2 separate regions of the Homo sapiens genome follow, and region 2 is linked to region 1. Evidence: fine-mapped expression QTL. A gene starts in region 1. The other region holds a variant in brackets. All regions are shown on one strand. Distances are from middle to middle.

The links.
Region 2: its variant is fine-mapped to the expression of ENDOD1 in whole blood (INTERVAL, PIP above 0.99).

Annotation. Positions count from the first base shown.
Region 1 is chr11:95,082,521-95,095,409 of GRCh38, forward strand. ENDOD1 (endonuclease domain containing 1) reads left to right here and starts at 7,326. Exons shown (of 2, transcript NM_015036.3): 1 at 7,326-7,707. The coding sequence starts at 7,408. RefSeq lists enhancers at 6,728-7,007, 7,078-7,137, 10,405-10,699 and silencers at 7,148-7,577, 10,405-10,699.
Region 2 is chr11:95,138,930-95,154,692 of GRCh38, forward strand. LNCRNA-IUR (lncRNA imatinib upregulated) reads left to right here and starts at 11,610. Exons shown (of 3, transcript NR_110303.1): 1 at 11,610-12,819. It also overlaps the pseudogene BUD13P1. RefSeq lists a cis regulatory region at 8,380-9,010, enhancers at 11,396-11,937, 11,938-12,479, 12,080-12,209 and a silencer at 12,730-12,839. The variant G/T (reference allele first, on the strand shown) is at 8,032.

The DNA of each region.
Region 1 (12,889 bases):
GGACCTCTATGTCTGACCTGGGGTCAAATATTGTAGGAGTTGTGCAGAGTATGTCATATTGCCCTGGGAGAGCTGAACACATGGGAAGAAAGAAAGGCTTACACTCTTCAGTCTTCTCCCTCCCCTCCTCTCCTCCCTCCCCTGAATAATAGAGAGCCAAGCATTTGACAGAGCTCCTTGTTCAATGCTTCCATGTCTCTGCTAGTGATCAAATGTTTCTCCCTCAATATTCTCTTTATACAAGATGATGTGACGTGAGTTTGTTGCTAATATTAGATTTGCAACAGATGCCCTCATTGTTGGGTCCTGGGTACATGCAGAGCAGATTAATAATCCAAAGACAAAGGCCTCAAATGCCCAGTGACTTTAATAACAAAACTTGCTGCAAGGGACAAGGGCTCACTCTGCACTGGGCAAGGTGAGGGGGACGGGCCTGCAAAAGGCCCAGAAACTGAGTCCACCATCTAGATGCCATTGGAAACGTAGGCGGAGCTGTTGGTGGGAGGTGGAAGGAAGCACCAGGAAGAGGCATCTTCAAGGGGTCACAAGCAATAATATTCAGGTCTATGGTGAAAATGACAAGTCATCTAGTCACTGCTGGTGGCCAAAATTTGGACCCAGGGGAACCAGGTAGCAAGCCTAAGAATTCAATAGATATGTCAATGGACATAGACGGTTCCTTCTGCTCCTTTTCATTTTTCTTAATAAAGCCTTTTTAGACAAATCGTAAACCTCCATGGTTACAAACCAAGAACCTCCTGGGTCTAACTAAGCATGAACCACTAGGATTTTCTGCTCCCCTCCTGCTTCATCTTCAGAATACTGTCATCTCACCTCTACAAGGGAAGGTGTTTCTTAATATCTACCAATGTGCTTTTTTTTTCTAATTTTACTTAGTTGCCTGAACCTTATGGAAGTTAACATTGCAAACCACGAAAGAGAATGTGTCTATCTCTCTTTGTCGCCTCCTACACATAGGCATTTTCTTAAGGAGTGTTCCTCTGCCCACAATGATCCCACTGCTATTGCATTGGAAAACTGCCTGAGACTTAATCAAAGTCAATGGATCAAGGGTATTTTGGTCTTAGGGAGTTGTACTGGAAAGGTTCTGTGCTTCAGAGGTCCTATCTTGATTTGGAATTGAATTGTCAGGTTGCATCCTGAAGCTAACCAGTTTATAAACTGAATTTACTCTTTCTGAAATTATAAACCAGAGCCCTAAAATACTTGTCTTGTAAGTTCCAGATTTTCATAATTCTGTTTTCTCTAAGTGAAACTCTGCCCATCTACTTATAGAGATGAAAGAAAGGACTAGCATTTATTGAGTTTTGCTATAGGTTAGATGCTTCATATTGGTTATCTCATTTAATTCTCATGTCAATAATACAAAATAGGTATTACTATTCCCATTTTACAGATGAGGAATTTGAGGCTCAGAGAGCTCAAATAGCTTGTAAGTGGCCGAGCTCAAATTTAAACCAAAACCTCCTGATGCCAAGACCTGTGGTTTTTCCATTTGTCTGTCTTTTTGTTTGGGAGTCTTTTATAATTCCCTGATGCTGTTACATGTCAACTAAGACAGACACATACAGACTTAGAGATGGGACTAAATGTTTTCCCTATTTTTTTCTACCAATTAAAATAAATAGCAATTGTTTTAACTCATAAGTAATTACAATGAAATTGTTACTTAGGCAGGTGTATTTCTGAAATAAATGTATAAAGTTCTGTGTTGAAAATAGAGATGACCTGGTGGTAAGCTGAGATTGTGGGTTCCAGGATGGCTGAGACCATGTTTTATACCCTCTGTGGCCCCAGCAATCTGCACTGAGCCTGGCCTGTGGGGTCCACTCGGTATTTGCTGAATGAAGGAATAAGTTTCTCCTCTATCCACATCCATATTGATGTGAAGTCTGATATTAGTTTTTTCTATTTAATGTGGTAAAAGACCCAAAACATCAAACTAATCATCCTAACCATTTTTTAAATGTTAAGTATATTCACATTGTTGTGAAAAAGATCTCAAGAACTTTTTCATCTTGCAAATTTCAATTTCTATACCCATTAAACAACAACTGCTATTATTTTTAAACATCATCCACATTTAGCTTTACTAGAAAGAAGACAGCTCTGCCCACATTTCAGGTAAACATGACTCAACCTCCTGCTGCTTATGCATCAGCAACTCTCTTGACTCAGTAAAACACTGTCTGCCACCCACACATGGGTTCAGCCAGGCAGGCTCTCTTTGATTTGGTCATTGTTAGAAAAAAAAATCAGGCATTCTAACCCCAATAGGAACTACTCCTCAGCTTCCTCACCTCTCCTGGTAATCCAAACTGTATTAGCTTCCTAATCATTTGGCAATTCCTTATATGTGCTAGAGAGACAAGAGAGGAGAGCCAAAGAAGTAGCTCTAGGGGTCTAGAAATTAATTGTTATTCTAGTTTGTGAATGATGTTTCAACATATCTCATAATTAAGTATGATTTTCCACCATTCCCATTGTCTTTCCAGAGCTTCTCCGCCTAAATTATACTTCTCTGCAACACAACACACAGTACTTCCCTTATCAGAGCATTTCTCATGCTGTATTGTAATTGCTTGTCTGTCTGTCCTCCGTACCATACTTCAAGTTCTGTGATGCCAAGGTCTGTGTCAGTCTTGCACTGTAATGAAGATGGGTATAGCATGAACTCAATGTTACAGAACTCACTAGCTGCATGAAGATTTCTCTGCTTTGCTCTGCCCTAGTCTAGGGCAAAGCCACTTGCAAATAATTAGCTAGCTTGTGTTTTCTCTTCTGGTTGCCCACATGACACTGAGAGGTGCTGGCCTGAGTGCCAGGAGAGCAGGAACTAGGCTAAACTTTGCTTCCCTTAAATACCCAGCATCTAGTGCCATTGCTGGCTCATGGTAGATGTTCAAAAAACATTCTGAGGATGAATGAATGAATTAGAGCAATGAAGACCCAAATGAAGTTTCATAAAGAAAGTTTCTTTCATTCATCTACTCACTCACTGTATTAGATGCTTACTCTATAGTAGGCACTATGTTCATGACTAAGGGGAAAGGTAGCAGTTACGAAACGGGGTTACTGGCTTAATAGGCATAATTAGAAGGGGCTCTTAACCTCATAGAGGGGAGGAGGGAGTAAAGTTGAGGACATGCTTGTCAGGAAGGTGAGTGATTGAGGAAGTGATGGTCAGCTAGACTATTGGGAAAAAAAAAAAAGCTAGATGAAATGAGTGAAGGGATGAGAATGGGTGGTGAGAATTCCAGGACAAGGGAAGTAGTTTATGATGCAAAGTTTCAAAGACTAGAGAGAGCATCAGGCTGAGTTCAGTGGCTCAAATCTGTAATCCCAGCACTTTGGAAGGCCAAGGCAGATGGATCGCTTGAGCTCAGGAGTTCCAGACCAGCCTGGGCAATATAGCAAAACCCTGTCTTTACAAACAATACAAAAATTAGCTGATGTGGTGGCACACGCTTGTAGCTGCAGCTACTAAGGAGGGTGAGGTGAGATGATCAATTGAACCCATGACATTGAGGCTGCAGTGAGTTGTGACTGCACCATTGCACTCCAGCCTGGGTGACAGAGAGACCCTGTCTCAAAAACAAAACAAAAGAGAGAACACTGTGCATTCATGGAAATATAAGAAGCTGAGCGTGTGGGCAAGGTGGGAGTGGAGAGAGATGAGGCCTGAGAGGGAAAGGCCAGGTCTCTGGGGTCATGGAAGTCAGCTAGTATGTCAGGCTGCATCCCAAGGTAAATGGAGAGTGATTAAGTGCTGTAAGGGTAGGGTGACATCATCAGATTTATGTTAGGAAGTCATCCCAGCTGGAGAGTGGATTAGAAGGGATGACGGGATAAAAACTGGGCATGACAAATGAGGATGGCTTGGTCAAAGGTGTGATGGTAGAGATGCAATTATCATCAGAGCAGTGAGGCAGGGGAAAGAAGTGTCTAGTTGGGCTCATATTTTTAAATAACTTTGGACAGAACCAACCAAGCCACAGAAGTGCATGTCAAATGTTTTATTCCACATCAACCATTACTTTTCATCCTCAAGCCTTTGCTGAAGGCTATGGAACCCAGCTTTGGCTGGGTCTGAGTGCAGAGACCTAAGAGGATCTGGTTTGAAACCTCTTTCCCTGTGAGAAGAGAGTCAGTGACCAAATGTAGAGACAGCAGTGAATTATTGATGGACCTACATGTTTTACACATACAGATGCTGCTAAAGACAGTTTTCCCCTAAAATCAGCAGTTAGCAAATGTTTTAATTAGATCAAGGCATTCCTACCTTGTAGGTTGTTCCAGAATCTTGGGGTGAGAACATTTGTAATTTGCAAAAGTAATATTTTATCTGTGGAAGGCAAGCACATGGAAGAAAAATCTATTGTCTTGTACTATAAACTAAAGAAAATAAACAAAATCATCCTGGCTGTGGGATGTACAAATGTTCAGTGTTATATGTGTGTCAGTCACTGATAGAGGGCTGGGGAAAAAACTAAAGTCTGCCACAGGGACTGAGTGGCAGAGATATTTATGCTTATCAGAGGTGGCGGGCAGGCATCAAGAAATTTTGAGAAAGTGAATTAAAGTCTTATAAATACTTTAGTCATAAAGGCCAATGATGATTGTATTATACTTTCTGCATTTGTTAAAATACAACATAATCATATTTGGCATCTAATCACTCCAGATTTTGTGGTAGCCACTGGGATCCACCAACCACCTTTGTCCCTAGGAGCACATGATTTAATAAAGAAGACAGATACAGGGACTATTAACACTCTACCATGATAAGTATCATAACAGATAAATGTTTAAAGAACTCAGAGAAGAGAGGGATGGATTTCTAGTTGTTCAACTGTGTTTATATATCTTTATGGTAGACATCATAAGTCAACATTGGGGAACCCTATATTCAACCTTATAAAATAATGTAAATATTTTTAAAATCCTGTAAAACCTATAATCCTCCCAGCATCCCAGGAGCAGCATTGTCCCTGTGGGAGGACTTGATTGAAGCCTACAAGGATGAGATGACTGAGATACTAGTACCAGATGATCAGGGTCATCATCCAGATCAAAGGGGACTTCAAGTCTAGCCTCTTCTGTGACATCACACTAAATGTGTCCCCTCCTTTTTTTAAAAAAACTAAGATACAAACTTTGGTTTCATTTCTGGGACCAAACATAGTCAACATTTTCCGGAATTAAAACCTGTAAGAAATTTGTTCTTAAGTTCCAATGTATAATCTCTTGAAGAGCTTCCTTCTTTATGGGCTCACCTTACAGATGCGCTGTGAGTTAAAAGAAAAGGCCAGGCTTGGGAAGCAGAGAGACCTGTTTCAAATCTGTCTTAGGACTCACTGGCTGTGCCAGCTTAGGCCAGAATCAACAGGCTCTGGTCTCAGTCCCTGTAGTGGCACACTGGGGAAACAGATGACATCGTAAGATGAGCACAGGCCCTGGCCCTGGGTAGCTGCCTTGACCCTATCTCTGCTGCCACCATCCTACCATCCTGGTCCAAGCTACCATCTCTTATCTGGATTGTGGCAATTATGGGGTGTTTTTCTTTTCTTTTCCTTTTCTTTTTTGAGACAAAGTCTGGCTCTGTTGCCCAGGCTGGAATGCAGTGGCACAATTTTGGCTCACTGCAACCTCCGCCTCCTGGGTTCAAGCGATTCTCCTGCCTCAGCCTCCCAAGCAGCTGGGATTACAGGTGCCCGCCACCACACCCAGCTAATTTTTTTGTGTTTTTAGTAGAGACGGGTTTCACCAAGTTGGCCAGGCTGGTCTCAAACTCCCGACCTCAGGTGATCCGCCTGCCTCAGCCTCCCAAAGTGCTGGGGTTACAGGTGTGAGCCACCCATTTATTCTGTGCCACTTCAATCTACCAGTCTCTTCCCTGATAGCAAAAAGAATCGAGTCACCACCTTTAAAAGATGAAAATCCTCAACATGATTTACAATATTTTTTCCAAACTGCAGGTCATGAGCCATTAGTGGCTCATAGAAACAATTTAGTGGGTCAACACCAGCACTTTTTTAAAAAAGTGAAGTAGAACAGAAATATGAAATTGCAATGCCAATCATAAGCATAAGAATTATTTCATCAAACTTTTCTCATTATGGGCCTTCTCAAAAAGTGTTTGAAGGCCTCTGGCCTATAATAACCTGAGTAATATGACCCCTGCCTCCTCCTTTAGCCCCACTTCCCATCATCCCCCACGCGGTTCTCCGCGCTTTACCCACACTAGCCTTCCTTAAATTCCTCCAATACATCATGTTCCCTTCTGTGGGAGACCACTTAGCACATGGTTTTCCTCCTTGCCTAGTTAATGTCATCCTCCAGGTCTCAGCTCAGATGCCACTTCTTCAGGCAAACCTTCCCGGATTACATCCTGAACCCCTGTAGCTGTCAGGGTCTCACAGATCTGTGTTCAGTTTTTAGTTATCCCTTTAATAGCATGTTTCCTCGGTTAATGACAAACTTTCCCACTAGGCTGTCTTTGTGACCGCAGGAGCCCTGCTCTTGTTTACCCCTGTGGTAATCCAGTGCCTATCTCAGGCTGGCACCTAGGCATTCAGAGGGATAAATGAAGGAAAGAATTGGCCAACCTGTTGACCAATGACGTTGGCTGGCCTCCTTCCTTGCTTGGTATCGGTTTTGTTTCTAACACTTGCACCAAGAAAACCACACAGGGTTATACTGTCTGCCTAGTTTAGGAACTTCCTTTAACAGTATTTCTTTACTCTCTGAGTTTCTGGTGAGCTAAAAAAACATAACAAAAAACAAAAAACTCCATCAAAATTGTATGCGTGTGCTGGTCGTTGAGTACTTCGGTGGAGAGTGGGAGACGCATCTTCATGAAATTTCAGAGGGGAACTCTGCCCATCCACTCCGAACCAGCCGCAGCTCCACGAGCATCTCACGCCACCCCTCTGCATCACCAGGGCGGCCGTGGGGCGCGCGCGATCAGCAGGCTTCTTGGCGCCCAGTCCATGCGACTATCTCTTCCCAGCCCCGGGACTAGGCCCGCCCCACTCGGATTCTCCACTCTTGGTAGCGCGCGTCCCCCGGACTGCTGAGACCAGGCGGCGCGGAGGCAGGTGACCCGCGTCTCCAGTCCCGGGCGCAGCCCAGGGTACGTTGTCAGCATCGCGGAGCGCGGCCCTGGGCCTCTGCAGCCATCTTCAGGGAGGGAGGCGCGGCCTCCCGACGCGGACCCGCCCCCGCCGCCCGGGCCGCCCCGCCCGGCTCCGCAGAGCGCCGCGCCTAGGTTGCGACTTCCCTTCCCTACCCTGCTCGGCTGCGTAGTGCGCTCCCCGCCCAGCCTGCAGAGCTCGCGCCGCGGCAGCCCAGCCGCTCGGCCCCGCCGCGCTCGCAGAGGCCGCCATGGGCACCGCGCGCTGGCTCGCGCTGGGCAGCCTCTTCGCCCTGGCTGGGCTGCTGGAAGGCCGGCTCGTGGGCGAGGAGGAAGCCGGCTTTGGCGAATGTGACAAGTTCTTCTACGCCGGGACCCCGCCTGCGGGGCTGGCGGCCGATTCCCACGTGAAGATCTGTCAGCGCGCGGAGGGTGCTGAGCGCTTCGCCACCCTCTACAGCACCCGGGACCGCATCCCCGTGTACTCCGCGTTCCGCGCCCCGCGCCCTGCGCCCGGCGGCGCCGAGCAGCGATGGCTGGTGGAGCCGCAGGTAAGCGAAGTGGTTCCCGAGCCGGGCTGCGGGCGCCGGAGACCGTGCCGCTGGACATGCCCCCAGTTGCAGCTACCGCGAGGGGCGGGCCGGGAACAGCAATCCCTACGCCTTCGGTGCCTTGGGCCAAGAAACCCGGGTTCCAGGTCCACCCTGTTGCGTCCCCGGAGTTAGCCTGCCTCGCCCCTGTCGAGCTACAATAAGAGCCTGGCGATCTGCGAGCCTTCACTTCATGAGCTGCAGGGCGGGAGGTCCCCTGTGGGAGGAGGTTCTCCCTGCATTTCTGAGCAGACATCCGCAGTGTTTCATTCCTGAATGGTGAAGAGCTTGATACAGAGACCCTGGAGACCGTTCAGATCCGCAGAAAGCCTAGGCTGGGCGCTCACAGGCCTTCGTGCAACTTATTGCCATAGCACTCATTTGGAGGTGGGTAGGTGGGCATTTTCATCCCCATTTTACAGAAGAGGAGATAAACCCAGGGGGTGAAGAGACATATGGAAGACTACCCAGTTAGTAAGATGGGGCAGGTCTCTGTCTAGAAATTCACTGCCTTTTCTACTAAGTAAAGCTTCTCTTCTGCAGAGCTCATCCTAGCCTGAAAATCCTTCCTCTACCACGGCGTTGAGTAAATTCGATCTGCGGTTGTGTTGAATTAGAACAATGAAATAAAGATACAGATTTTTAGAAACGCAATGGGGTAGTTAAAAATGATAGGGAAACATTGACTACCTCCAACTGATGGAAAGATAAGCCAGTTTTTCCTGACTCCTCATATCTATATTATCATACCACTAGGAAATCGTGTCACCTCTCATGGTGTTCTGTCCCGTCTGGTAAAGGTGACCAAACACTTGAGAAGCCCTCAGAGTCTTCCGAACCTGCTGGCCTGCTCTTAATACCTCTCCTCAGTTGGCCTCCTCTCTAGAACACCCTGCCAGACTCCCCTTTGCCCTCTCACCAGCCTCCCACCCCTGCCCAGGCTGCTGGGGGAAGAACTGACCCAACGCTCTCCCTTTCCTGACGGCCACAGCTGCCCAGGACCACACCAGTGGACAGGAGGCTGGCTTTCAGGTGCTTTATTCAGAGCCTGTGGGTTGTAATCTCATTCAGATATTTCTAGCTCTGAGGTCTTGGCCAGGTCTCAAACAATCTGCACCTAGTTTTCTTATCTTCCTCACATCCTTCCACCTACCTCAACTGTTGATAACACTTGTCGAGATCAGGCATGTGAAAAAGACGTTGTCAGTTGCACACACAAGACACATTTAAATCCAAAATTAGTTTTCCACCAGCTGCACCCCTAGAGCTCACAGGGTGTTCCCCACCTCTCATCTTGCATTGTGATTGTGTGCCTGCGAAGAAAACAAATGAGCTAGTTCTTTCCCCTTGATCTCATGGACAGCTTGGGGAGACAGAACATACGTCTGAGGAAATCATGGGAATGGATGCTAAACAAATTTCAGTTAAATTCAGAACACATTTAGTGACTCCTGCTGTGTGCCAGATATTTGGGACCAAGAGATCTGAGTGCAGTTCTGGAACAAAGGCTACCTGATCTGCAGGTGGAGTTTGCTGGGTGGAGAGGTGGTGTAGTATCTGATTAGAGCCATGCTATGTGGGTTCATATCCTAGTTGCTCCACTGACTAGCTATGAACTTGGGCAGGTTAAATTGGAGATAATAGCATAGGGTGGTGTGAAGATTTAATGAGTTACCATATATAAAGTTCTCAGGTGTGTGACACATGAGTACTAAGTACTAGCTGTTGCTATGACCTAAGCAAAAAACCATAATTTAATAAAGGTGAACAAAGTCCTATTAGATTTAATCTGTCTTTGAGGTGATGGAAGCAAGCCTTAGGGTCAGGATGACATTTCTGCTGTGTGTGGAAAGATAAGGCAGAGTTTAGAAGGGAGGCAAGGAGGAGGACATTTCAAGCAGAGGGAACAAACATCATGAGTGAGAAAGGCATGGCAGATTCAGGGATTTGTGCGTGAAGAAGTTGGAACAGGTAAACTAATACAAATAGATGAATGCACTCAATTGCTCAGAATAAAAAGGAATCATGGAAGGGAGGGATCAGGTGGGGAGGAGCCACCAAGGAAGGCTTAGGGAGGCAGAGCCATTTATGCAGCTAGGGAAGGAGTGAGTCGTAAAGGAGCATAGTTTGACAGAAAGAAGTACAGGGAACCAGGTAACATGGAGACCCTGGGTGAGATAATGAGGAAGGGGACTGTGGAGATTAAAGAAGATGGGAAGGGAGGGTGGAAATAGTTACAAATGGCAGCTTGAGAGGTAAGATGTACAGCGGTTCTGAAGAGTACAAGGGGCCTGAGTTCCTGCTGTGCTGAGAGGTCAGAATGGTCACTGTGGCTGAGCACTGCAGGATGCTTTTCCCTGCAAGGTGGCTGGCCTCCCACATCCACCCGCTCGACCTCAAGTCAAGTCAGCCAGGATCCAGAGAGTATTGGGAGAGAGGGAGGGAGGAGGAGGTGTGAGGTGCAGCTGGGCCTGGAGTGCACTGCAGCAAACCTGCCCCCACTGTTGCCTGCTCCCTGAGGCCCTGCCTCCCAGCCAAGATCCCCACTGCAGAAAGATGCTCAGGGCTCAATGTGTACCCTTGGCGGCTTCCAAGCATTTTATAATGCTGAGTCTCCTTGTACCCACATCACCTTTTTATGAGGTCAGTGTTACCAAGAGGACCCGCACACAGGGGAGGAAGAGGCAGGAGACCAAAGGAACTCAGTGCTTGCCTCCAGTGATGAGTCAGGCAGGGCAGCAGTGACACTGAATTCCCAAAGCCCAGTTCGGCAGCTTTTGAGTCCACACTGCAGTTTCCCTTTGAAAAGAATCTCCTAAGTCAAAGATCACAGAAACTTAGTCACTCTTGTGCTGAAAATCTGTAAAGTGTTGCCTGCCCAGCCCCTACAGGACAAAGTTCACACTGCAGAATGCAGTTTACAGGCTCTCCATAGCCTAGCTCCTGTCTCCAGCTCCAATCTAGTTTCTCACCATGCTCCACCCTCATATTTTATGTTCTAGCATTATCCAGCTGCCTGGAGTTCCTCTCATAAACCAGACTGTTTGTGATGTCTGTTTCTTAGCTCATGCTGATTCCCTTTGCCCAAATTCCCTTTCTACACAGACCCCATCTTATCCTTCACTTCCTGCCCTTACTCCATCCTTTAAGACTCTGCTGAGGTGTCACCTCCTCCAGAAAGAATTCCCCACCTGAACTGTATCCACCTCCCAAGTTAGGTTCACCCCTTCAGTGCTCTTATAGTTTTTCTATTTTCATACTTACCATGTTGTTTTGTAATTATCTGCTTATGTATCTGTCTCCCCAACTTGAGCCCTTGAGGAATGATGATTGCATCTTACTCATTCTTTTCCTAGTGCCCAGCTTATAGAAAGCACGCGATAAGTGTTGAATAAAATAATTTGATGTTGGGAGGATCAATCAGGCAGGAGCAGGTGAGATGTTCTGCTTCAGTTTTCTCAGTGGGGCGCTTCCTGTTTCAGAAGCTTGCACCAGGGCTGGCCAGCAGCAACTGTTACAAACATGCTCCCTATGCAGAGCTGGAACCCTGCTCTGCAGCCACTCCATCAGTCTTAGCTTTGGCCTTTGAAACTATCCCAAATGATTTTGATCTCTGCTCTGCCTACAGGAGATGGTTTGGAGGAGTTCTAGTCAAGACTCCAGAAACCTGAGAACTGGATTCTGGTTTAGTGCAGGAAGCCTCAAACCTTTTAGTTTGTTGACTCCTTTCCACTTAATGGAAGAATTTTTAGATAAGATGCCAATGATACCTTTCTAAAGTGCATTGCTGATTTATGCCAGAAGCCAACATATAAAGCTCTATCATTTTATAAACATGGAAGGAACTGAATATATAAATTATATAATTAATATATTATACATATTAATTATATAATATATAATTTATATATTCAGTAACAATAGTGTATATTTGTTCAATCTTAAAAAATACTGTGAGGTAGATATTATCTTCATTGTAGAAAGGAGGAAACTGGCTAAGGGAGGTTAACTGAGGTGTTTTAGGGTCACACAGCTTATTTTTGAACTCATTACTGATTACTCTTCTGATACACTGTGGAGATTCTTTGATCTCACAATGGATCCACTGCGCTAATGGTCTTAGGACTCTAATTTTCATCTTTTATGTGAGAATTCTAATTTCTACTCCACTTCTATTTTCTGACAGTCATAGGACAAGTGGGAGCACTTACTTGGCTGCATAAAGGTTGCTCAAGTGTCACTTTACTCTGGAATGAAGGGGATATTCTGGTTAACTGCAAAAACATTTTCCTGGAGGGCACAGTGAGGTCTTACTTCAGATCTTAGTAAATGCAAATGGTTGTTTCAAGTTAGAACCTTGATTAAGTCCTTGATTTTTAATTTCCATCCATGGCTTATACAACCTGAAACAGAAATACTGTTCAATTTGTTCCAACCTCAGCCTTCTTTTCATTGTGTCAGAGAACAGATATATAGAGCATCATACACTTAAATCTCTGTGTAAGGAATGCAGTGAACAGGACAATCCTGATTCTTACTCCTTAATTAAGAGACTTAATTCAGATCCCTGCTCTTCCATTTACAAGCTATGTGACTTCCAGCCCCATTTTTTGGATCTGTTCATTAAAGGTTGTAAAAGTGTTTATAGAGAGGTTGTGACAAATAAACAAGATAACACATGAGAGCATGTGGCATGGTACCTGGAATATGGTAAACTCTTAGTAAATATTAATATGTATATAAGGTGTTACTTCAGTAGGTGCTAGGCGTGTGCACGCACACACACACACACACACACACACACAAATGGAATGTTGGATTAGATAGGTGACATCTACAATTCTGCAAATCTCTCCTAAAAAGTAAAATATCTATCCATGTATCTTCTCAAATGCTTGGTGTATGTCCCACATTCATACAGTAGCTGCTTCATAAATGCATGATGAGAGATGAAATGTGTGGAAGATTGAATGAATGGATGGAGGGTGGATTTGAGTGATTAAAAGCAAAAACAAACCAAACAGGTACCAAAGACATCTCCACCCTCTCTGTCCTGGAAAACCAAGAAGTGTGTTGTCAGAAAACAGTGAGCAATGGCATTCCAGTCTATTGTGCTGAGACTGGATAAGACTGGGAAGTGCCT
Region 2 (15,763 bases), 58 kb after region 1:
ACAAATAACCTTAATCTCCCAGTTTCCGTGTGATTAAAATGAGAGGTTTGCACTCAGTTTTCTAGTGAGACAATGATGCTTAATCCTGATTGCACGTTAGAATTGCCGGGGAGGTTTTATTGATTTTTTTAACTAATGTTAGGGTCCCATCTCTAGTGGTTTTAAAATAAGCTTCAATAAAGAAGATATACAAATAGCAAAAAGTACATGAAAAGATGCTCAACCCCATTAGTCATTACAGAAATTCAACTTAAAATCACAATGAGATCAACTGTACTCACTATATAGTATAAAGTAGACCCATGCAAGGATGGCGAGGATGTGCAGCAACGGAGCTCTCATTTAATATTAGTGGAAATGTAAAGTGGCACAACCACTTTGGAAAGCTGTTTAGAAGTATCTTAAAATGATAAACTTACGTCCACCATATGATTCAGGCTTTCCACTCCTAGGTATTGATCCAAGAGAAAAGACAACATACATCAATACAAAGACATACCATGCAATGTGCATGTTCGGAGCAACTTTATTTGTAACAGTCCACAACCGGGAAAAAAAAAACCAAATGTCCAGCATCAGTTGAATAAACTATGGTATAACCATAAATGAATGCTATTTACCAATAAAAAGGAACTGACATATATAACCACATGGGTAAATCTCAAAAAAATTATGCTGAGTTAAAGAAGCCAGACGAAAGACAACATATGATATGATTCCATTTGTAAAAAATTCTAGAAATGTAAATTAATCTATAGTGACAAAAAGCAGATCTGTTTTCTTGGTGATGGGATGGGGAAGTAGGGGAAAGATTACAAAGGGCATGAGGAAACTTTATGAGATATTGTATATGTTCATTATCTTGATTATAGTGAAGAGTCAGGATGTATATTTATGTCACTGTGCATCAAATTGATTGTTAAATATGTGCAGTTTATTGTATATCAATTATACCTCAATACAACTGTAAACAACAATACTGATGCCTAGCTCTCAGTCACAAAGATTCTGATTTAATTGGTTTAGGTGGGGCCTTGGCATCTGTAAATATTAAAAACATCACCTATGATTCTATTGTACAGCCAGGGTTGGTTCTGTGATTTTAGATCATTATAACTGCCCTGGGCCAGGTAGTTTGGGAGAAACCTCCCGCACTTTTTAACTAGAGCAAAAGGGGATCACCCACACAAGAGCTGCTGCTCATGCATGCAAAGTGCTCCAGTCAATCACCTCAGTGTTCAAGGCTCAGACCTGGCCTCTAGAAGATGGAGCTACTTGGCCTTTCACAGAGCATGAGCCCCCTCCATCCCTGCCATCTATCCATCTACTCCAGCTGGCTTAATGCCCTCTTGAGACTCCATTTTCCCTTCAAAGCTTCCTCTGGTGAGCATGTCAATGATATGTAAACTATATAAAGATGTCAGTGTGTATGTGTAGAAATAGTGTGACTTGCTCCAGGCAGACATCTCCTAATAACACCTGTCGGTATACCTTGGGCAGGATAAGACACTGACATCAGCTGCTTAAAGGCAGCAAACTGCAGATCCCGAATCCTGAAATGTGGAGGAGAAATGCTCCCCACTCTGGTGGTCCCAGTGATGGCAGCAAAACTTGACCAATAGGGGGCTGCCCCTTTTGGTAAATGGTCTTTCTACTCCACCCTGAGACACAGCGAGAAAGATCTTGTTACAAATTCTACTCCACTTCTTAGTAAGTTAAGCTAGTCACTTAAGCTCGTTTTCCCTTTATTTCCTCACTTCTAAAATAGAGATAACATAATCTTCCTTGTTTACCATAACAGGGTTATTGTGGGGATCAAATGAGAAAATGAATGTGATCATGCCCTATAAACACAAAGGCATTATTATGTACCATGATTATCCTAGTGTTTTATAGAAGGGAGCAGTAAAGGCATAGACTCACTTGGTGGGAAACTGGATGAGCCTCCTGGAGTCTGAGTGGGTGTGAGGAATGACATCATTGCAGTCTCCAGAAACTGGACTTGCTGTTTCCATGACTTGAGTAATATCATAATCATGATGATAAGGATATCTACAAAGAATTGTACACTTAGGTCTAGACACTGTAATAAATTGTACATCTATTTTTTTCTGAGCTTACAGAGGAGGGCACTGAGGCTTAGAGAGGTTAACTACCTTGTCCAGAGTCACACAGCCAGTAACTGGACTTGGGTCTTGACATACCAAAGTCCTGCTCCAGAACCCACAGCAATAACCAAATGAGCCTTCTCCTACAAGGGAATGACTCTCAGCTCAGTATTTTAATAAATGACTTAGGTGCTTTTTGCAGGTATTCTCAATCTCAAAGCAGGCAAAGCTCTGCTAGGAGACAGGTGCTTTGTTCTAGAATTTTCTGTGCTATCTGAATATGACAGAGGGTGTTTATGATTGAGTTTTCCATGCAGATGTTTTTCCTTAGCTTCTAAAAACAAACCTAGTGAAATAAGAGTAGGGTTATCAGGTAGGTTGCAGAACCTAGGGTGATCTGCCTTGTAGAGTTTGTGGTTAATATTCATTTGTTGAACCTTCATGCCCACCAGCCTGTATATTAGGCACAAAGAGTAGACCAAAAACATAGTCATGTACCTGCTACTACAGTGCTTGTACCAAATGCCTACATACTGTGGCTGGGGAGGTTAGAAGACTGATAAGCAAATAATATGGTAGACAAAGAACTAATGTCCTTAATATATACATAGAGCTCACAAAAATGCCTAAGAAGAATGCTTTCACCATTGTGTTGTTGTTATATAAAGTCACAGTTTATCTTTTTGAAGAGAATGAGTTTATAGAAAGGCAGATTAGGAATGCAATCTTTCCCATGTGACATCCTTTCTTTATATGTATTTTTATTGTCAGAAAAATAATTTCATGGGCAAAGGGTTTCAAAATATGAGTTCTCATTTTGAGAAGGGAAAATGCGAAGTTGCTACAAAAAAACTTATCTTTAAGAAAGAATTCAGATTTATAAATGCATTCAGCCACTCTGACTAGAGGTGAGGTTGTAGAATGGGGGTGTCTTATCTGTTGCACTCCCTGGCCTGAAATACCATTTCAGTGCTCAACTCCTGGCTTCCCTGAGTAATTCCAGCCCCCATTTGAGAGGTTTGATTTCATAGGACTGTGGAGAGTCTCTTTCAGGAAAACAAAGATCGAGCAATGCTGATCACAAGCTGCTGGAGCTGGATCCCCTCTAAGGGGCATGCCCAGGGAGTCTCATAGCCCTGCCAGTTTGACAGCAAAATGGTACAGACAGGAAACCTGCACTCTCTCTTGCTCAGGCTGATCCTGGTTAATGTCCAATGTTCCTTTGAGAAGGATCAAGGACTCTGGGTCTACTGGCAGCCTGAACTGCCTCCTGCAGCTCTCTTTGCTCCCGTCATCCTCGGTCTGTTTAACCAACTTCCCAGAAACCATCCATTGATCTTCCAGTACGTTGGTCAGTGGAGATGAGATTGAGTCAGATGAGGAACCCATCCTTGAGGAACTCGTGATCAAGTTGTCCCTCTGTTTGATCAGTCTTTCAAGTGTCCTTGCCTTCTAGCTTCTTTTCTTCTACATTCCCAGAGCAATGTGGCCCTGGAGAATGATTCATTTAGTACCAGCTACTGCATTGTGTGGTGAGAAGGGAGAGGATATAGGAAAAATGCTTCTGTAATAGCTGCTATGATGCCATTGGTGTTGTTGGCAGTCACCACCCTCCTTCCTAACTCTACTGGCAGGCTGTGGAGGCAGGCTGTGATGTCCAGCTGCAGATTTCTGATACTGTCAAAAGTGCTCACATCCCACAGCCCCTTGAGCTGTATTATTCCTTGGAGAAGAGTTCCACACAGCTCCACTCAGGGCTCCAACTCCAAGCCGTGGGTTGGACAAAGAAGACAGGGGAGGTGATCTAATCACCAACACACATCTCTCTGCAGTACATTTATAGAAGACTCGTAAAGTTACTCACTTTGAGAAATTAGATGCTGTGTAGATGTTGTCTCCAAATGCTAACATTATGTAAGGACATGACATTGCTTTCTTCACAAGGAAGAGGAAAAGCAATTTTCCTTGCTTGGCTCAGGTTGATCATGTGAGAAGAGCACAGAAAAAATCAACTATTAAATAGTGGGAAACTACGTCCATCACCACTGAGGGAGATGGCGTTTTGAATATAATGAAAATGGAACTGATCAGTGAAGAAGCTCTCGGGCTCTGTCTAGATTGTGTTTTAGCAGGCCTTACCCCTGAAAACTATTTTATTTTTAATCTTCATCACACGAATACCCTTTCCCTTGAGTGAGTAGCATCATCAACTGCTTGGGCATTTCCCCAGATCGAGTCAGGCTTAGCTGGATGGGCATAAACACTGTGGACATGACTAAGCTTAATTCCATTACATGAATTGCTTGCAAAAAATAGACGAATCCCCTTAGGACCTGAATAAGGAGTTTCCCAAAGTTGTGAGGCCCTGAGTGGACCTCTCCCTGCTATGTTTTCCTCAGAGCGCTGATCTGGGACCTGAGAAACAGGGTGCACCTGTTAATGTGGTTTCTCCTCCCTGCCCCACTAAGTCACAGAGCCTGACATGCTGTTGCTCTAGTAGCTACTCTGCCACTCTCAGTCATCACACTTCTGACATGTCACTTGTCACTGGTACTGATGAGTGCTTCAGATTCAGTAGCAAGCATGGCAGGGCCAGTGGCAGGAGGATGGAGGTTGTGGACCATCATGTGCGTGGACCATGGTATGATCTGTCTTCACCACTAAACTGGAAAATGAAGAAGATGATGATGGAAATTTTCCTGTGGATATGAGATGGGTGGGGACACAGACGGAGCCCTTTTGGACCAAGGACATGGAAGCAAGAAGGAAGGCCTGTCCTTCCACAGGCATTCTTGCCATGACTCCATGGATTCATCTCTCCCTAGGAATGCTGTCATGATTTCCAAGATCCTTCGCATCCTAGGAGTGATCAGCAAAACTACTCAGACCTGTCTGCCCTGAAGAGCATCCACTATGAACCTCCAGACCCATCAGTCTAGGAGGGCTATTGACTCCTTAGAAGCAGTGCAAAGTAGGAGAGCACATCGGCACTCTCCAGGTGCATCTCTTGCTGGAGAAATAATCATGACTTCCCAGATCTATTCCCCCCTCCCTCCCTCAGGAAGACCTATCTTAACTCTCCAGCAGAGACATCTCCATCCAGCAGGACCTTCCATGATTTTCCAGGTTGGCTTCCAATATCTATCACTTTCTACCCAGAATAAAAATGAGCAAGATATGAAAAAGAGCCTCCAGCAAGTCTTTTCCACATTGGAAGAGCCAGGAACCTCTCATTTGTTCCAAAAAGCAGCAAATAGAAATACAATTCAGACCTCTCTCCACCATGAAAAAAAAGCAAACAAAATCCCATTCTGAAAGTAAGAAGTAGCATGCCTTCCAAGCCTCTTTCCCCAGCCATAGCAAACTTCAGATAAGCTCTTTGTCTAGAAGTCACACTCTGGATCTCCTTACCACCAGAGTGGGTACAGGAAGTCCTCTGACTCAGATCCGTCTCTCTGTGGAATAGACCTTGGCCAAGGAGCTCTGATTCTGGAGACGGGGGAGCAGCTCTTCTGATTCCAATCTGACCCTGCTCCAGATGGGTCAAGTTCCTGCAGATAAGGCTAAGTACTTGCTTTCCTGGGCCCAAACTGACATGCAGTGAAAACCTTAGGAGCTTAGGTGAGCCAAAGAAACCACAGAGTTTGAAGTTGAATTCCAAATGCCAAAGCCATATTTTAGTAACTTTAAACTGGATTATTTAGACCAAAGGAGAAATGCAGAGAAGATGAGGAGTCCCCCCAGTGGGGAAAGGGGCTGGCACAGAGCCAGCCAGAACAATAGAGTATGGAGGTGCCGAAGCCCCTGGATGGCTGTGTGGATGAACACTTGCACTGAATGCTCAGAGGACAGGAGAGAGGAATCCCATGGCCAAATTGATTGAGAAGAATTAGCCTAAGGAGATCAGAGATAAGAAAGTGAGGACTCACTGCAGTGGTCTGGCACCTCCTTCCAACGGATTCAATATCTGGCTGGGACACCGCAAGGATGGAGAGAACAGATCCAGTGTGTTTGACCCAAGGCAATTTGCAGGCGTGCAAGCAAGAAGACAGTCACTGTTGTGACTGAACGTATGAGCATGGGGGATGGACCTTCAGCTGCTACATCTATCTTGACTAACAATCAGGGCTTACCCAGATCAGCAGCAACTTGTTGGGCACCAACTTTGGTCCTAGGAGGATTTGGGGCTGGAAATTCTAATTAGGGGCACCATGAACTTCTCAGCTATTCTAATATAGAGGAAACACTGGTTTTTCAGTACCCTGAGGACATCTAGAGTTTATTCTGCTTAGAGTTTTTCTCTATTTTACTTTTCTTTCTGTAGCTGAACATATCCATATTTATTAGAAAAAGTGCAAAGCCCCTTAATTTGTACTTCTAGCATTAATAAGCGGGTAGAGGCAAGACCAGAACTGGGGAGTGTTCTCTTCCTTAGACAGCAATCAGCAGCTCAGACAGCATCTCTGGCAGTTGGCTGTAAAGACCACTGACATCAACAAGATCCCACATTTTATGAGCAATAACTTGGGTTCAAAAAATGCAAGTTTATAGCAAGAAGGTGAGTTACGTAACACATACTCAAGGAAAAAAGCAAACAAAATTGGTCAAAGATAAGCCAAAAGGAATACATCCCAGCCAATGCCGGACAAGATGGAGATGAAGAAGAATCTCTTTGGGCTATAAAATGACTAAGCAGAGAAATTTGGAGGCGAATGGCAGAGCCTCCTCCTCTTCCAGATTGACTGTTTAGAGGTTGACAGGGGCATCATGCCCTGCCATTGCTTCATTTCTGCTTAGAGACAGTATTAAAAGTTCCTGGACAGGTGCCAAAAGTACCGTTGACATGCAATGAGTCTCACAAGACCATCACCTTCAGGGTGTTGAGCAGAGAAGCTGACCAGGCAAGTTTCAAACACACTGGAACAGTTTCTCTCCACTTCCACTTCAAGAGGGTGGCACCACCACCAGACCTCCTGGCATGAAGAGGCTCCACTCCTACTGAGAAATAGTTTTCCTCCTTGGCCATCACTGCCTTACATTTTTGCCGCCACCCTCACATGTGGTCCTACACCCTCAGAGCCCTGAGCTACTCTTACTCTGTTGTGTCTGCAGCTCTCTGGTTCTAATCCTGGCACCAGGAATCCACCACCAACTTCCGGGGTCTACTACCAATTTCTAGTGTTTGCCTTTCATTGCTGATTTTCATATCCAGGCCCAGAAGTTCACCCACCAACCATTGCAATTTGCCCCCAGGTCCCAGGGGTCCAGCAGCTTCTGGATTCACCCCAGCCTCTTAGGTTGCACCCAGTGACCCAAGAGTACACACTGATTCTCAACTCCCCATTCCTCCTCTTTTTCCAAATGAAAAGCTCTACCCTTTTCCCCCTCAAGCTTTATTTTTTCTTCTAATTTCCCATCTTTTTCTCCATAGGGAAGTTTTGGTGATTTTGTATAGGGGCCTGTACTGTCCCCAGAGTTGATTAAATAGATTCTACCCCCCACCCCATGATATGAATACACTGTTGCAACAAAAACTATACTAAGCTGCTAAATGAAAGAGCCCTGTACTCTACTGTTTTGTAATAAACTACAGTTACAGCCCTGCAGAGAAACATTAATACAAACAAGGAATAAGTTTCAAATAAGAAAGAGGAGAATAAAGAGGAGAAATGATTAAAGGGAAACTGAGCAATGAAGCAAACTTTTGTCTATCCATGCAAATTCTCCTGCTCCCAGTACCTTGTGAGTTGTAGATGACGCTCCTCAGCAGGTTAGGCTGAGAATAAAGGGCCCAATTCAGATGACTCCTCTGCTCTGGTGAGTTACCTCCTCTGTTTCTTAAAAGGAGAAAACTAGAGCTTTCTCTGATGTGACACCAAACTTATGTTTATTTTTTAAAATTGAAATTCTAACCCTTATATTT[G/T]TGTGAAACCCATGGTTTGTGAAACATTTTTAAAAACAATTTTAAGAAGCCATAAAACATGGCTGCATGTGGGAAACTATGATAGCTAATAACCGTAGCAGCTGCCAACTACTTGGCTGTAAAGGACTCGAACTCCAGCGTTTTTTTGTTTGTTTGTTTGTTGGCTGATTTTACTTGCCTATTAAACACTCAGCCTATTAAAAACTTAGCGTTGCTCATGAAACTTGAGAAAGCAGATTACACTGCTAATTTTCCCTGATGTAGTTGTGTGAAATAAATTTGAATTAAATGAATCTCTGGCATTTTTCTGAACCCACACAAAAAGAAATGCATTTTTTTGGTGGCTGTTTTCTTCTTCTTCTCTCTCTCTCTTTTGTTTTGTTTTATTTTGGTGCCTCTAGGAGCTGGGGCCTCAATGATGAACAAGATCCAGGCATTGGCCTTAAAGAGCCCACAGGCTGGTGTTCAAGATCCAGGCAAACCCCTCCTTCCTTGACAAGGGTCAGCTTTGAGCAAAGATGGGTAAGTGGATGTGTAAACAGCCAACTTAGGTATATGGAGCAAGAAGGCAAAGAGCTGGAGAACTGCCACTCAGAATACAAGTTGATGCACAGAAAATATATCAGCAGAATCCAGAGCACCAGGAAGCTGAATCAGCAGAGCTGGCCGATAGTGAGATGACTCACCCCATTCCATGCAGGGGAAATGCATCTGTCTTCTTCGTATCCTCTCTCCCTGCACATATGACACTGAGCAGAAACTCTTCATGTGTTTGCCTCTGGCCCTGGGCTGTGTCTTAGTTATCTTTCTATCCCACTTCCTGACATTACCATCTACCACACTTTCTGGTGCGGAGCGAGGCTTAATAAATAATAGTTGTATTAAACAAGCATTCAAGAAGAAATGTCCTCACTAAGTGGGAGGTTGAACTAGAATAGCTCCCAAATTCTGTTCTACTTGGAGATTCTATGATTATGTAGACAGTCTGGCATGGGATAGGTGCCCACTAAATATTGATTCAGATGATGCCTGCTTAGTTTTGCAGTTATTTGTGCCCATGTTTTATCTCCCCATATAATCAGCTTACTTTTTTCTGCAACCGTATTAATTATTTACGAAGCACATTAGTAATCAGTTTGCATGCATTGTCTTCCTTGATTTCACATAACCCTAGGAGCTAGTGATTTAGTTTCTATTGCTGCATAACAAACCACTCCATAACTTAATGGCTTAAAACAACCATTTATTATTATCTGTCTTGGTTTGTATACTAACTGGGCTCAGTTTATTCCCATTCTTTTTGGGGTCCCAGATGTGGGCTGGTGCTGCAGTCTTCAGAAGGCCCAAAGGTGCTGGATGTCAGGAGAGCTCACTCGGTGGGCAGTTGATGCTTGCTGTTGGCTGGGACTGTTAGCCAGAGCACCTACACATGGCTTTCCAAGTGTTCAGGCTTCTCACAGTATGGTGGCTGGGTTGGAAGAGGGAACATCCCAAAAGACTCACACAGAATGACTTAGCTTGTATGAACTAGCCTTGGAAGTCCCAGACCATCACTTTTGCCACATTCCAATGCCCAAGTAAGTCCCTGAGGCCAGCCCAGATGCAAAAGAAGGGGAATTAGATTTCATCTGTTGATGGAGGAATGGCAAGGTCATTTCTGAAGAGCAGCTGAGATGGAAAGTATTTTGTAGGCATTTATGGAAAATGCCATCTGCCACAGTAGTTACTATTAATATCTCTTTCTACACAGGAGAAAATTTCACAATGACCTAGCTAAGTTATATGATTAACCTGCTTGTTCAAGATCAGCCAGATCCAGATGTCATCTAATTTAGTAACCATTGTACTTCACTTAGGATAGTGTTCTAAAACTTTAATAAGGAAGGAGTCACCCCTTTCAAAAATGCAGTATTAGTATCAAGAATATGAAAACATAAATTCTAGTAAAATTTATAAAGTAGAAATATAAATTCTAGTAACACTTGGGATGCCATGTTCAATAAATATTACTGAAGGAGGAGCTAACATCTGCTGCACTGCTTCAGTGGTCCAGGCACTCATACACTATATATAAACTCACTTAATCCTCACAGTTATCTTTTCCCCCCAGATGAAAGTGAACTTTAGAGGGATTAAATGCCTTGCCCCAAACCAAGTAACCACTTAGCGACAGAGCCAGGGTTTGAACACAGTCATGTCTCAGTCCACATTCCATGTGCTTTCCACTGAGCTCCATGTTACAGGTTGGGCTCCCCAGGAATCAGTCTCTGAGATGACAGTAGCATGCAGGAAGTTAGCAAAAAAGTGCTCAAGGGGAACACACGTGGGGAAGGGGAAAACTCAGGATTAGGCAAAGGAGAAGGTGGGCAGGTAGAACTAGAGCCAAGCAAATGCCAGCCAGCCTTTTTGGAGGGTTTGGGTGGATAACGGACAATGTCAAAAACAGCATTAATTTTCAATCCTGGGTGGTGGAAAGACTATATATATGTATGTATATATGTATGTATGTATGTATGTGTATGTGTGTATGTATGTGTGTATGTATGTGTGTGTATGTATGTATGTATGTATGTATATGTATGTGTGTATGTGTGTGTGTGTATGTATGTATGTATGTGTGTATGTATGTATGTGTAATTTCTCTATGTCAGACACTGCTGGGTTTGTGCTCCCCTCTATAATCTACTGATTGTGGGACTTCACACGAGGTACAAAACATAAGTGACCTAATAAGCCCTCTAGACAGGGCTTCAGGGAGGAGCCAAGGCTGGCACATAGTCAGAGGGCAGGAAAAGTTCCACTCCCTCCGTGTGATTAGGAGGGCTGCTTTGTTTTCTTCCCAGGCAGAGACCTCAAAGAAAAGTGTGACTTGTGGCAATCATTGGAATGCTCTAACGGGAGGGAGCCCTAAGCTAAGGGGAGGGGCTGTATCAGCCCCGGGAGGGCGAGGGACAAAGGGGCATTGTTTCCCTGGAGGGCAGGCTGGGGCAAGGCTGACTCCACTGCCGGCCTGGGCGTGGGCAGGTTTGCTCCCGGGAGGAGAAGGCCTCCATCCTGGCCCACAATAGCCAACCCAAAACAGTTCTGGCAAAATTAAAAGACGCAGGAAAATGCCAGCGACCGTTTATTTTCTCCTAGGGTAGATGGGGGAGAAAGCAGCTCCTTTTTCTGGGCTGAATGGAGTCTCAGGGAGGGGGCTAGGTGACAGCATCGCCCTTTCCTCTCCGGCTATTGCGCACCTTCTGGAGCCTCGCTCAGCCTGCTCCCTCCGGCGTAATACGCCAATGCTGCTACCCACAACGCACAGACCAGAAACCAGGATAGACAGAAGCCTAGAATGGCCTGGCATCGAGCAGGCCCAGCGCAAACGCAAGGTCTCTTCCTCTCCTTTCGGTGAACCCCACGCCCAGTCCCGAGAGAGAGAGCGGATGCTCATTTCCGAAAGCTGGCAATCCTGCAGTGGCCACTGGAAAAATACATATACGTGTGTGTGTGTGTGTGTGTGTGTGTGTGTGTGTGTGTGCGCGCGCGCGCACACAGTGCATATCGTGCCCATCTACAAGGAAACCTGGAGGCTCCACAAACAACTTTGAGTCCCGGGAGGGCGGAGGTGGAGAGAGATTCTCCGCTTGGATAAGGGCGGCTGGATAGCCGAGTACTCTCTTTTGGGGCTGTTGGCCGTCTCCGGAGTCTCGGGAGCGCCTTGATGTCCCTTCCCAGGGCTCGGGTTCCTTTGAGAGAATCAAGAGGAAGGTGTTTTTCACTAGGACTCGCGGTGGGCCCCACCTGCCTACCGTGGCCGGCCGGGAGCTATTACAGCAGGGTCTGCCCGTCCGACGACGGCGGCTCCAATCTGGGGTCCCGCCGGCGCCGACCCCTCAGCTCTCTCCCGATACCTGCTGGCCTCTCTCATCTTTGGTGGCACTCGCCGCCACGGGGACGGTGAGATCAAAGAGGTAGACCTAGGCCAGGAGGGACTGCCAGGGCTCCTTCCCGCGGGCCAGCCTCTCGTCCTTCCTCCCGGGACGGGGCTCTTTCCCTTTCTCCGGATGCGGGCCTTTGAGAGTCAGCGACGCCTTAGACTCCTCCCAGAAAAATGCACCCTCATCTACCCAATTCTGCCCTACCCTTTGGAGCTCCTGGACCCTCTAACCGCTCGGTGGGGTCAGAGCCCACCCCCGGAAGGGCCGCTGGTCGGGGACTGGTTCGCCCTCTCCTGGCCTCCTCGGACCAGTGCGCGGGGAGGATCCCGCTAACGCCGGGCGCCTGCAGACCTTGAGCGGCCTCGCCCTGGTGACCTCCCCGGGAAAGGCTGGGCGGTGCTTCCACAATGAGGGCCACCTGTTAATTTGCACGAGAAAGTGCTGCCGAGGGCCCACACGTGCGAATCCACCTGTGGAGTGCGTCCCCTCTCTGGGGCCAAGGCCTAGGGGAGGCCGAAGCGGAGAAGTTGCCTGAAGACTGGGAAGTAAGAGTAGGGGCGTCGGAGGAATCGAAGTTGCAGTGACATCAGGCTCGGACAGCCGGCGGACTCCTCGCAAGGTGATCGGATACTTCCGAGAGCCCCACAGTCCTCCTGGGCCTTTGCCCTCGCGTCTGGGATGCGCTCGGGCGCCCCCAGTCTGCGATGCGTTCGTACCTCCAGTAGGGTGACGTTTTCGCCGGGCCCCTCTGCGAACAGTCTCCGCCCTCCTCCACTGTGAGATATTTCACAGTTTCACCCGCAGAGGGCAACCTTATTCCAAGTTCCCGAGCGCCCTAGGCCTCTTTCTCCTCCCTGCCTAACTGGTGAGGTGGGACTTCAATGCCTTTTAGGTTTACAGTCTTTTCCTCCCCACGGCTTCTCTTTCCTCCCCGTCTCAGGCACTGGGCATTTCCAGTCGATCCAGCAGGTCTGGCTTCTCTCACATATGCAGTAAGGGTTAGGGGAGAAGGTCCCAGCTCCTCTTGTCTCTAGCAGAGTGTAAACTGGCTCTGCTGAGGAGGTGGCTGTGCTTTTATTCCTTCTCCTGAGAACTGTTTATATATTAAGGAGCTTCACAGCCTCCAACATAAGGAAAGCAGGTAGGAACTGATCATATAACGCTTTGTAAATGTTTTAGACTTTGGCTTTAATGGGAAAGAAATGGGGAGCCATTCGTGGGTTTTTGAGCAGCAGGTGGACATTGCTTTTCATAATGACCACGCCAGCTGCTGTTTGGAGAATAGACTGTAGGGGTCACTGCGCAAATTGGAGGCCGCGATCCAGGTGAGAACCAGGTGAAACAGAGCTCGGGCCATGGAGTGGCGCTGGAGGTAAGGAGAAACACTCAGACTCTGGGTATGTTTTTTGAAAGTAGGATAAAAGGCCGGGCGCGGTGGCTCACGCCTGTAATCCCAGCACTTTGGGAGGCCAAGGTGAGCGGATCAAGAGGTCAGGAGATCGAGACCATCCTGGCTAACACGGTGAAACCCCGTCTCTACTAAAAAAAAAAAAAAAAAAAAATTAGCAGGGAGTGGTGGCAGGTGCCCGTAGTCCCAGCTACTCGGGAGGCTGTGGCAGGAGAATGGTGTGAACCTGGGAGGCAGAGCTTGCAGTGAGCCGAGATGGCGCCACGGCACTCCAGCCTGGGCGACAGAGCGAGACTCTGTCTCAGTCAATCAATCAATCAATAAAAATACAAAACATTAGCTGGGTGTGATGGTGTGCACCCTTAATCCCACCTACTCGGGAGGCTGAGGCAAGAGAATAGCGTGAACCCAGGAGGCAGAGGTTTCAGTGAGCCGAGATTGCGCCATTGCACTCCAACCGGGGCGAAGATTTACATATATATAAGATTTTCTGTCTGATTGTTTTTTTGGGTATGAGAAAAAGACAGGAATCAGGGATGACTCCAAGCAGCTGGAAAAACGGAGATGCTGCTGGCTGAGATTGGAAGATGCTGGGGTAGAGGGATAAGACAGCTTAATGTTATATATTTTAGGTTTGAGGTGTTCATTAGAAAAACAAGTGGAGAGATTGATTGGGCAGACACACAGGTCTGGAGAGGGCTGGGCTGGAGATAGAAATATGGGTTGCCATGATACAGGCATGGGACTGAAAGCCCCATCAGTCCCTTGGAGAGATCATCAGAGAGTGAGTAGAGACATAGCAGGGCGAAGCCCTGAGCCCCGGTTCCCCCAGCATGTACCTGCAGTCTGTTTCCTCTTCTCAACTACAATTCCCATGGTCTTGTCTTGTTCACAGAACCTGCTCAAGGAGCATCTATTAAATGAAGGAACCCAACTTTCATCACATGTAAAATAAACATCATTATAATCCTACCTCATAAGGTTGTTGTCAGAAAAAGTTAAACGTCGTAATGAAAGTGAAACTGCGTTATGATTGGTAGATGCCTGCTATATTTTAAAATGTAGGCTTCATTATCTCATTCTGTACAGCTTGTATTACTTGATTGTATCTTCACAGTTTCTGATGCATGCAAGGCAGACACTCTCGTTCTCACTTTATTGACGAGGAAAGTAGGATTGGTGAGACAAAATAAGTCCCTGAAGCTGCATATCTAATGGTAACACCAGTGGCTGACCTGTTTGAGCACATCTGCGGCAGGCACTGTGTTAATGATTTTGCATGTGTTATCTGGCAACAACACAGCGAGGTGGGGGTTATTATCTTCACTTGCACATGAGGAAACTGAAGCATAGAGAGGGTGGTTAACTTAGCCAAGGTCCCATAGTGAGTGGTTGGAAGAGTCTGGGCCATGAAGCAGACCTGCCCATCCTGATTCAATGTTCTTTTTGCAGCCTGATAGCTCCTCTTCTTCATCCCCCTACTAGACTCCTGCCAGGGCCAAGCCTCACCACTCCTTCCCTTGACATTGGCAACATTCCTCTCTCCTTAACGTTTCTCTCCTACCAAGCCTGCTTGCTGCAGGATACAAGAGTTCAGTCACTCCTTGGGAACAACCTGCAGGTCAAAACATTTTGGCTTATTGCTTCCCCTTTCTGGAAAGTCCTTTCCCTTCCTCTCTGCCTTATGAACTCCTATGTGTTCTTCCAAACCCTGGTGAACTCCTATGTGGTTTTCCAAGTCCAATTAATATGTCACCTCTGTTGTGAAGCTTTCCCTGCTTGCACCAGACAAGAGGCATGACTTAGATCATGTGACACTTTGTTTATAGGTCTATCAAAACAAACTGACAATTTCCTGTGGGTTTGACTGATGCCCCTGTAATATTGTGATTTTTCTCTCAGGTTCTTATATTTTCATGTCTTTTTATCCAACATGCTGTTTGCTTCGTGAATACATAAATGAATGACCCATTTACAATCACTATCAAAGCAAATTTATGGATATCAAATATTCTTCTAGAGATGAGGAAATAGGCTAAAAGGAGTGATTTGCCTAAAGTCACTCAACTGATTAAATACTGGAGCTTTGCTGGGTATGATTATGCGTGCCTATAATCCCAGCTACTCAGGAAGCTAAGGTGGGGGCAGAGGGGGTGGGTGGCAATGACCGCTTGAGCTCAACAGTTTGAAGCCAGTCTGGCTAGCATAGTGAGACTCTGCCTCAAATAAATAAACATAAATAAATAACATAAATATTGCAGCATGAACTCAAGAGAGGTGAGGAGATTTTGTCTGGTGAAACTCAAGATTTCACATGCCTATTGCTTCCCTCTCTGGCATCTAGGGTCCTGGAACCCTCCTCCAAATGCTCCTGCAGGTGGCAACAGAGGCCAAGGAAAGG